Regions from separate parts of the Homo sapiens genome. Here region 2 is linked to region 1. Evidence: fine-mapped expression QTL. Tissue or cell type: whole blood. Region 1 holds a variant in brackets; the other region holds the start of a gene. All regions are shown on one strand. Distances are between the middles of the regions.

Region 1 (5,114 bases):
ACCCCTTCCCTGCGCCGGGCCCGGTGACCTTGGCTGACAGTCAAACTCTCTCGTTACGGGGAGGCTCACGGTTCGCTCCGAGACGCGGAGGTCGCTGTCGGCCTCCTACCTGCTCATTTCCCCAGCGCCGCCAGGGAGGCGGCCACGGAACACCGCCCCCTCCCTAGAGCCGGCGTGGACGGAACCGTCGCTCCCAAATTACGTCCCATCCAAATGCCGGAAGTCCCGCCCCAAGCTTCGCAACCCACAGGAAACGCCCCTGTCCTGGACCATCATTGGCCCCAGGGCCCGCCGTCGCACCTGGCAATGCCTTGTAGTTAATGTAGTTTTTCTCTACAAACCACCTGCAAAGGGGACAGATCCTGAGCCGGCAGGCCTCGGTGTAAAAGTCGCAGCGGGCCTACAGCCCGGCTCAGACCTGCCTCTGTCCTGGGGGCACAACTCGGAGGCCAGGGACCAAGCGCGAGACCGTCCATTCTTGGCCGGAGGAAATCGAGCCCCAGGAGTCAGGGACATTTGCCAGGGTCAGGGCCAGTGCAGAGACCCTGGACCAGGCTCCGGACTCTGACTTCCACCTTGCATTATTTCCCCTCCGGATCCTCTTATACAGATCAGCGGGCAGTCAGAGTAACCAAAGGGGGACGTCGGGCGGCGCGATGCCTCAGGCCTGGGATCCCAGCGCATTGGGAGGCCAAGGGGGGCGGATCGCTTGAGCCCAGGAGCTCAAGACCAGCTTGAGCAACATAGGGAGACTACCAAAAAAAAAAAAAATTTTTTTAAAATAAGCTGAGTGTGCTGGCGCACACCTGTGGTCCCAGAAGTCTGTGGCAGGAGGATCGCTTGAGGACAGGAGTTTGAGAACAGTCTGGGCGACAGAGCGAGACCTCATTGGTACCAAAAAAAAAAAAAAAAGAAAAAGAAAAGAAAAAAAATAGAGCGCGGTGGCTCACGCCTGTAATCCCAGCACTTTGGGAGGCCGAGGCGGGTAGATCACGAGATCAGGAGATCGAGACCATCCTGGCTAACACGATGAAACCCCGTCTTTACTAAAAATGCAAAAAATTAGCCGGGCGTGGTGGCTGGCGCCTGTAGTCCCAGCTACTCGGGAGGCTGAGGCAGGAGAATGATGTGAACCCGGGAGGCGGAACTTGCAGTGAGCCGAGATCGCGCCACTGCACTCCAGCCTGGGCGACAGAGTGAGACTCCGTCTCTCTCTCTCTCTCTCTCTCTACTTATATATACATATATTTATATATACATATATACATATATACGTATATATACATATGTATATATACGTATATATATGCACATATATATTTATATATATATTTATATATATATTTTTTGAGACAGGGTCTCGCTCTGTTGCTCAGGCCATAGTGCAGTGGCGCGATCACAGCTCACTGCAGCCTCAAACTCCAGGGTTCAAGTGATCCTCCCACCTCAGCCACCCAAGTAGCTGGGACTGCAGGCACGCACCACCACGCCCAGCAAATTGAGGGTTTTTTTGTTTTGTTTTGTAGTTTTTGTAGTCAGTTTCACCATGCTGCCCAGGCTGGTCTTGAACTCCTGTGCTCAAGTGATCCACTCACCTTGGCCTCCCAAAGTGCTGGGATTACAGGCATGAGCCACAGCATCCAGCCTACTCAAAAAAAATTTTTAATTAGCTGAGCATTGTGGCACACCCCTGTAATTCCAGTTACTCAGGAGGCTGAGATGGGAGGATCTCTTGAGCCCAGGAGGTCGAGGCTGCAATGACCTGTAATTGCACCACTGCACTCCAGTCTGGGCAATAGAGCAAGACCCTGTCCAGCTGGGACATGTTGCAAATGCATTGTCTCTCTTGGGCCTTCTTTGGCCAAGCTTGGTCTTCACATGGTCCAGCAACTTTTGCTTTAGGTATTGGCTGAGAGCCCTGGTAGAGTAGATTTGACATTCCTTAACGTGGGGAGTCTTGGACTGGGTGAGCTCATGACTCCAACTTTAAGCATGATCAGTTTGAAATGTCTGTATGACCACAGAGTGTCTGTGTCACAGCAGTTCAATCTCTGACTGAATATTGGGAGAGAAGTTGTGCCTGGACATAAAAATCTGGAAGTTTTTGGCAAACACTGTTATTTCAAGTTATGATACTGGACAAGACCATGAAAAAAAATGAGCATAGATGGAGAAAGGAATGGAAAGAGGTGAACATTGTTAAACAAAAATTACAGGAGGCCATTGTTTTGGAGCTCCTACAGCAGGCCTCACTGACCAAATCAAAATGGCGTCTCTCATACTAAATGTCATCTAATCAAACTGAAGTTTTAAGGAAGCAGACAGATCCCAGTTTTTCCTAAAAGCAGATTTCAGTCTACCTGAATTAGTGAAATTAGGAAGTCCCCTCTGCTTTAACCCTTAGAAAAAGTAATCTGTTAACCAATCAGCTTTTTTTTCTATTGTTCTATTTTATTGTTCCCACCTTACAAAACCCACTGTTCTGCCATTGCCCAGTGGGAACTCTAATTTCTATTGTGTAGAACAGAGATTGCCTCAATTCATGAATCACAAACAAAAGTCAATTAGATCTAAAACTAAATTTGTTGTAATTTTGGCCTTTTGACAACCCTGAACTAACTGGTTGCAAACAAGAAAGCAACAAAGTCATGTTAGGGTCATAACAA[T/C]CTTTTAAGAATTATACAGGCCGAGTGCAGTGGCTCACGGCTGTAATCCCAACACTTTGGGAGGTAAAGGCGGGTGGATCAGCTGAGGCCAGGTGTTTGAGACCAGCCTGGCCAACATGGTGAAACCCCGTCTCTACTAAAAATACAAAAATTAGCTGGGCATGGTGGCGGGTTCCTGTAATCCCAGCTACTTGGGAGGCTGAGGCAGGAGACTCGCTTGAATCTGGGAGGCGGAGACGGCAGTGGGCCGAGATCGGGCCAGAGAGCAAGATTCCGTCTCAAAAAAAAAAAATCATATTATACAAAACCTTTGTAGTCTCCGTTGGTGACTGTTTTTTTTCTTCTCATGACTATGAAGGTTAGAGAATAAAATCCAGCTTTCAATGATTTGACAATACATATGGTTATGAAAATGGAAACAAGGTGTGCAGAAAATGCCCTCCAGAGATTTGAAAGTGGAGAAAGTATCATGACAGGATGTTAACTGGGTGGAAATGTAGATGGAATCAATTTTCTAGAAGGTATTATTTGTAAAATGAGATTATTGAGAAATGTTGCTTAATTAGCGTGCAAGCTGTTGACACTGTTACTCATCATTGACAATACTAATTTGCCCAATTTAGAAGAGAGGAATAATTCTCCTTTCCATATGTGTATGACCCGTAGGGTTAAATTAGTTTTCGCTTTGGATGCAGAACAGATATTAAAGTTAGTATATTTATATTCCATCATGGAATGTCTGGAATCAGTGCTGCTGAAGAAAGCTATGTAGATATTGGTGACAATTTTTTTTTTTTGAGACAGAGTCTCACTTTGTTGCCCAGGCTGGAGTACAGTGGCGCAATGTCGGCTCCCTGCAACCTCCACCTCCCAGGTTCAAGTGATTCTCGTGCCTCAGCCTCGCAAGTAGCTGGGATTACAGCCACCATGGCCAGCTAATTTTTGTATTTTTCAGTCAAGACAGGTTTTTACCATGTTGGTCAGGCTGGTCTCGAACTCCTGACCTCACATGTTTATCTGCCTGCCTCAGCCTCCCAAATTGCTGGGATTACAGGTGTGAGCCACTACGCCCGGCCTGGGGACACTTTCAAATCCCTCATGTAAAGCATGACAGAGTTTTCATTATTTAAACATATATCATCTGGTGATCAGTGCTGAGGCCCTAGTGATTTTTCTATCCTTACCTGCCAAAAATGTGCCCAGTGATGTGTTTATCCAGCACCTAAAATGTGTAAGAGTTTATATGTGTGAACCAGTTAATTTATTAGGAATTGCCAAGTGTTTAAAATGTTAATTCAGGAAAACTGATAGGATGAAGCAAAGCATATAGAGGTAAGCACTGTGTCTCCCCATGCAGGTAAAAGAAAGAAAAAACAAAAAAGAGGTAAATACTGAAAGTGCAGGTTAAAAACCATGAACCAATGTCTTGGAGTATTTAACTTATAGATCTGCAATAGTGGGAGCTTTTCATCCAAGTGAAGTGGCTGAGTTATTTATGCTTACGTAGTGGGTCTGGTCATAGCAGAAATCATGCCTGCAACTGCTGGATATTTCACAATGAGGAGACTTTGTAGAATATAATGATAGGAGTAACATTAACAAGGCAAACTCCATATAAAGTGCTTAACAACTAAAGTTAGGAGAAATACTGGTGTAACTGACTGCATTGATCAAAAAACATTTGAGCTTACAGCTGAGGAGTCTAGATGCTTACTGTGGTAGTCAGTTTATAATGGGTGCAGGGAGCAGCTGCCACATGAAGCTGTCACAGAAGGTTACAGAAGGCTGGAAGGCCACTCCCCAAATTGCAGCATGCAGTAATTTCAGAAGAGGTGATATTACATTTATTATGAGGAATGACTTATTCTAATGTCATCAGAGTGCAACACAACACAGAGGTGCTAGTGTATTCACTTAAGAAGTGGGTTGCACTGACGTGCAGTGAAACATTTTATTTCTGAGACAGCAGCATATTGATGTCCATAAAAAGAGAGTGGACCTTTGGGTTGATGACAGTCCTGTTTTACAAATGGCATACTCCTGAAAACATGGAGAATAGTAAGTTGGATCAAGGAGCCACTGTGATAGGTGGCAGGTTTATGTACCCTCAGGGAATTTATCTGCAGAAAGTAGACAAGAGTTTTCTTTCTTTTCTTTTGAGACGGTGTCTCACTCTGTCTCCCATGCTGGACTCCAATGGCACGATCTCAGCTCACTGTAGCCTCTGCCTCCCAGGTTCAAGCAATTCTCATGTCTCAGCCTCACAAGTAGGTGGGATTATAGGTGCCCGCCACAACGCCCAGCTAATTTTTGTATTTTTAGAAGAGACAGGGTTTTACCATGTTGGCCAGGCTGGCCTTGAACTCCTGAACTCAAGTGTTGCGCCTGCCTTGGCCTTCCAAAGTGCTGGAATTACAGGCGTGAGCCACCGTGCCTGACCTGAAAGTA
Region 2 (5,158 bases), 42 kb before region 1:
AAGAAAGAAAAACTGTTTGTAAAAAAAAAAAAAAACAAACAAACACTGAGGCAAAGGCCACAGCATCTGAATTTACCATCATCATCTCTATGTCACACTCAGGGACCTGAGACCTGGGCCTCAGTCCTACCCTCCGCTCTACCAGTCTACCCAAAGTCTCATGTGTTCATGTCTCTCTCTTTTTTTTTTTTTTAGATGGTCTCACTCTGTCACCCAGGCTGGAATGCAGTGGCACAATGTCGGCTCACTGCAACCCTGACCTCCTGTGATCTAGTGATCCTCCCACCTCAGCCTCCTGCACAGCTGGGACTACAGGCACATGATGCCATGCCGGTCTAATTTTTTGTACTTTTTGTAGAGACAGGGTTTTCCCATGTTGCCCAGGCTGGTCTTGAACTCCTGGGCTCAAGCAGTCCACCTACCTCAGCCTCCCAAAGTGCAGGGTTTACAGGTGTGAGCCACCAAGCCCAGCCCAAAGTCACAGGTCTTATCAACAGAGGCAGGATTTAAGCCCAGGGCCCTCTGGTCTGATTATGTAACCTGACATTTCTCTATTAGCAAAGTTAATGCAGTTAATGAGAATGAAGCATTTCAAATCCACATATACATTTCAGCCACTCCCATGGACAAGGGCAGAGAAGTGTAGTCATCATCATCCACCTCACCAAAGAATCACCTGACGTGGTGACACCTGATCAGGTGTTAGGGCCTGGACCTGCTTCCAGGGAGAATTCACAATGAGCCATCGCTTCCTTTTCTACCTAAGTCCTACTAGCAGGCATCCCTGAGGCCAGAAGATTCCATGAGCAAGCAACAAGAGTCATAGAGGGCACAGCAGGTTGTAGCCAAGACAATATGGGCCCATCTGGAGATTACATCTATCCTGGCTGAGTAGGAGGGTACATTCAGCAACATAACCATACAAACGTGCCCTCTCAGAATATGTCAGCAGGTAAGGGAGTAAGGGGAACCACATATAAAACCACCGTGGAAGCCACACAGGTCCCCTGAGAACTCCTTAAACAACCAATATACCATTTTTTAAGTCTACACAGTTCCACCAGTATGAAAGGCCATGACTCCTCATGCCCAAGATCACTGGCTAGAAGGAGGCCTCATCTTGCAAAGGTTACTTTAGGTCTCACCCCCAGGCCTCCCTAACCACTGCGGGTAAAGAAGAGGGTAAAAACACAGGCTATGATGTTAGACACACCAGTTGTTAGTTTCTGACTTAAGAAACTTAAGAGCTACAGTGATGTAAGGCAGGTAATTGGACGTATGTGACCCTCAAATTGCTCTTGTGTAAAACAATGATGACAACAGAACCTAATTCTAAAGAGTAATCCCAGCACTTTGGGAGACCCAGATGGGTGGATCACCTGAGGTCAGGAGTTCAAGACCAGCGTGGCCAACACGGTAAAACCCCGTCTCTACTAAAAATACAAAAATTAGCCAGGCGTGGTGGCGCACACCTGTAGTCCCAGCTACTCAGGAGGCTGAGGCAGGAGAATCGCTTGAACCCAAAAGGCGGAGGTTGCAGTGAGCCGAGGTCACGCCACTGCACTCCAGCCTGGGCGACAGAACAAGACTCCGTCTCAAAAAAAAAAAAAAAAAAAAAAAAAAATTTCAGGGTTAAACGAACTGAGGGTTAAATAATACTCACCGATCAGCCCACAGCAAGGACTCAATGACAGTTAATATCATTCTTTGCAATTATTTTTCTTTGTTCCCATTACATCCTTGACAAACTCAAATCCACAAGCTTCTTTAATACCATCAGATTATCTACACAAAAATACCAGACTCTGGGCAAGGGTGTAAGGTGCCACTTTAGCCGGAATTGCCAAAAAAGGCACCTCCAAATAGGTGACACCTGGACAGATGCCAAAAGGATGTGAAAGGGAGGCCCTGCAAAGTTACAGGGGCAGTGTTCGAAGTAAAAGGAAGTGCAAGGAGAAAGCCTGGAAAATGGAAGAGGACTGCACGGTCAGGTTGGTGGCTCTGAAGAGCAAAGGACCAGGGAAAAATGCAAACAGACAAGGTCAGGGGTGGTTGGCCAGGTGGATGGGGTACGGGCTGGCAGGCAACAGAGAAGGTTGGATTTAGGGGAAGTGTGATGAGATCCCTAGAAGGAAGCATCACTCCTTCAACCACGGACTGAACACCTATCAGAGGCCAACACTGTTGCAGGACTGCGGATAAAGGAAATGACAAGCCACGGCCATTTCTCTTAAATAAACGATGGCGACAAAGAAAAATCCTGTGGCTGTCTTGGCTTCCAGCCTGCCCACGAGGCCTCTAGAAATAGCACAGCAGCAGCAAGGCCGAAACCTCGTCCACTCACCTGCGCCGGAGCCATCCACGCCGCCGCCATCCCGGGAATGCCGCGGATCAGCCGACCACAGCCCTTCTCTGTCCTGGGCGGGGCGACCTCGGCTGACTTTCGCACTCCGAGCCTCAGTTTTCCCCCGAAAAAAATGCGCACAAGGCCCAAGGCGCAGCGTCGGGGCTGAGGAGACGGAGGGCGGCTGCGGAGGCCTAGGCCTCGGCGGGCGCCGGTGGGACACCTCGTTAGGGGAGAAGCGGGGCGTCAGGCTCCCGCCAAGACGCGAAGAAGGGGCGTAACCGCTTCACTACCCGTCCCTGCTCAGGCCGCAGAACGCGCCCACCCAGCGCTCTAGGCCCCACACTGTTTCAGGGCCAAACCGGCCCACGGAGATGACGTCACACGAAGAAGCGGAAGTCCCGCCTCCGCCGCCCTGGCCCGCAGAAAACTCTCCTGTCCTGGGTCGTCAATGGCCCAGAGTCCGCGGCCGACGCAAGGGGCAGTGCCTTCTGGGTAATGCAGTTTTTCCCTTACATCTACCGGGTGTGGGAACTCACCCAGCGCATCCGACTGCACGTAAGTGCGCACCAGAACCCCCGCGTCGTCTTAGGGCCACCGCCTTAGTATAGGCACAAGTCGGAGGGTCGAAAGGTCCCTTCTAGCTCAGGAAAATCGAGGTCAGGAGGCGGGGATATTCGCCCCGATTCAGACCCCGAACAAAGGTGCTTACCCTGCTGTGGGCTGGGCCCGCGACTTCTCGCTTGCTTTGCCTCTTTTCTGGATCTTTTCATAGAAGAAAAGGATAAATGAGCAGTTAAAATAGCCACCCAAAGGAGGACGCCTGACAGTGTGCCCAGCCTGCTGGGAAAGGACAGACCGCCCTCTATTGGGCCTCCTTTGGCCGGGCCCAGCCTTCGTAGGATGCAGGGACTTCCGGGTGATGTAATAGGCTTCGCGTTCGCCACGTGTGGACTTCCCGTACCCTGAGGTGGGGAGGCTGCTAGTGGAGCAGGCTTGCCGGGAAGCCCAGTACTCCCATTTCAAGCATGATCAGTTTGAAACGTCAGTAAGACCACAAAGCGTAGTGCCATATACTCAACCTATGATTCAACATTGGCAGAGGGTTCGAGCGTGGATATATAAATTTGGGAGTTATTACTGTAAACTGTTACTTCAAGTCATGATATTGGGTGAGGCTATGAAAAGAATGAGCGTAGATGGATAAGTGACGGGAAAGAGGGGAACCCTGGCCCAACCCAGCATTAACTGGTTGCAGACAGGAGAGTTTATAAAGTCTTGTTAGGAATTTTAACAATCCTAGACTATGCAAAGATTATATTATGCGAAGTCTTAGGAGTCCCCATCAGTAACTTTTTTTTTTTCTTTTCATGACTATGAAAGTGAGAGAATAAAGTCCAGCTTTCAATGGTTTGACGATATATATGGTTAAGGAAATAGAAAGGTGTGCAGAAAGTACTCTCCAAGAGATTTAATTTTGAGATTGAAAATAGTCAAGGAATGGAGATGGAGTCAATTTCCTACACGATGCGGTACTTTTGGAGAAATATTTTTGGCTAAATTAGTGTGCAAGGAACACTGTTATTCATCACTGGCAATAGTAATTTTTGAAAATTGATAAAGACATCATTCTCTTTTTCACATATTTGTGACTCTTAAATTTTTTTTTTTTTTTTTTTTTTTTGAGATGGAGTTTCACTCTTGTTGCCCAGGCTGGAGAGCAGTGGCACAGTCTCCACTCACTGCAACCTCCGCCTCCCGGGTTCAAGCGATTCTCCTGCCTCAGCCTCCTGAGTAGCTGGGATTACAGGTGTGCGCCACCACGCCTGGCTAATTTTATATTTTTAGTAGAGACAGGGTTCTTCCATGTTGTTCAGGCTGGTCTCAAACTCCCGACCTCAGGTGATCCACCCACCTCGGCCTCCCAAAGTGCTAGGATTACAGACGTGAGCCACCCCCTCTGGCCAGACTCTTATAATTAAATTTAAATGGTTTTTTCAGAGGCATATGAACCAGAGCAACTCTATCTTAAATAGGAGCTGGGTAAAATGAAGCTAAAACCTACTAGGCTGCATTCCCAGACAGTTAAGGCATTCTGAGTCACAGGATGAGATAGGAGGTCAGCACAAAATACGGATCATAAAGACCTTGCTGATAAAACAGGTTGCAGTAAAGGAGCTGGCCAAAACCACCAAAACCAAAATGGTGACAAGAGTGACCTCTGGTCTTCCTCACTGCTACACTCCCATCAGTGCCACGACAGTTTACAAATGCCATGGCAATGTCAGGGAGTTACCCTATGTGGTCTGAAAAGGGGAGGCATGAACAATCCACCCCTTGTTTAGCAAGTCACTAAGAAATAACCATAAACATGGGCACCCAGCAACCCTTGGGGCTGCTCTGTCTATGGAGTAGCCATTCTTTATTCCTTTACTTTCTTAATAAACTTGCTTTCACTTGCACTGTGGACTCGCCCTGAATTATTTCTTGTGCGAGATCCAAGAACCCTCTCTTGGGATATGGATTGGGACCCCTTTCCTGTAACACATTCCTGGCCACTACAGAAGAGACTATACTGCAGGAACCCGTGACCCAAAGGCTAACTTTGGGTAAGTGGTGGGGTCGGGTAACACTTTTCTCGCAAACCACAAAAGGGACAATGCTGAGGAGACCCCCCTGACTCAAAGGAAATAGACTGCAGCACTGATTGGATGACTTTGGGTAAGTGGTGGGGTACCCAGGTAAAGAATGGGATTGGGATAGACGCTCAAGTTAGGGGAGTTAGAGTCTCTCCTAAGGCAGAGTGGATTAGAG

The links. PIP is the estimated chance that this variant, and not a neighbour inherited with it, causes the effect.
Region 2: ZNF460-AS1 starts here. The variant in region 1 is fine-mapped to the expression of ZNF460-AS1 in whole blood (TOPMed, PIP above 0.99).

The regions. Positions count from the first base shown.
Region 1 is chr19:57,235,704-57,240,817 of GRCh38, reverse strand. It overlaps ZNF805 (zinc finger protein 805), which reads right to left and starts at 186. Exons shown (of 4, transcript NM_001023563.4): 1 at 1-186. RefSeq lists enhancers at 79-348, 369-588. The variant T/C (reference allele first, on the strand shown) is at 2,667.
Region 2 is chr19:57,278,023-57,283,180 of GRCh38, reverse strand. It overlaps ZNF460-AS1 (ZNF460 antisense RNA 1), which reads left to right and starts at 2,847. Exons shown (of 3, transcript NR_136529.1): 1 at 2,847-2,902. ZNF460 (zinc finger protein 460) reads right to left here and starts at 2,696. Exons shown (of 3, transcript NM_006635.4): 1 at 2,345-2,696. The coding sequence starts at 2,374. RefSeq lists enhancers at 1,215-1,334, 2,263-2,854, 2,238-3,437, 2,855-3,446, 2,561-3,500 and a silencer at 1,791-1,840.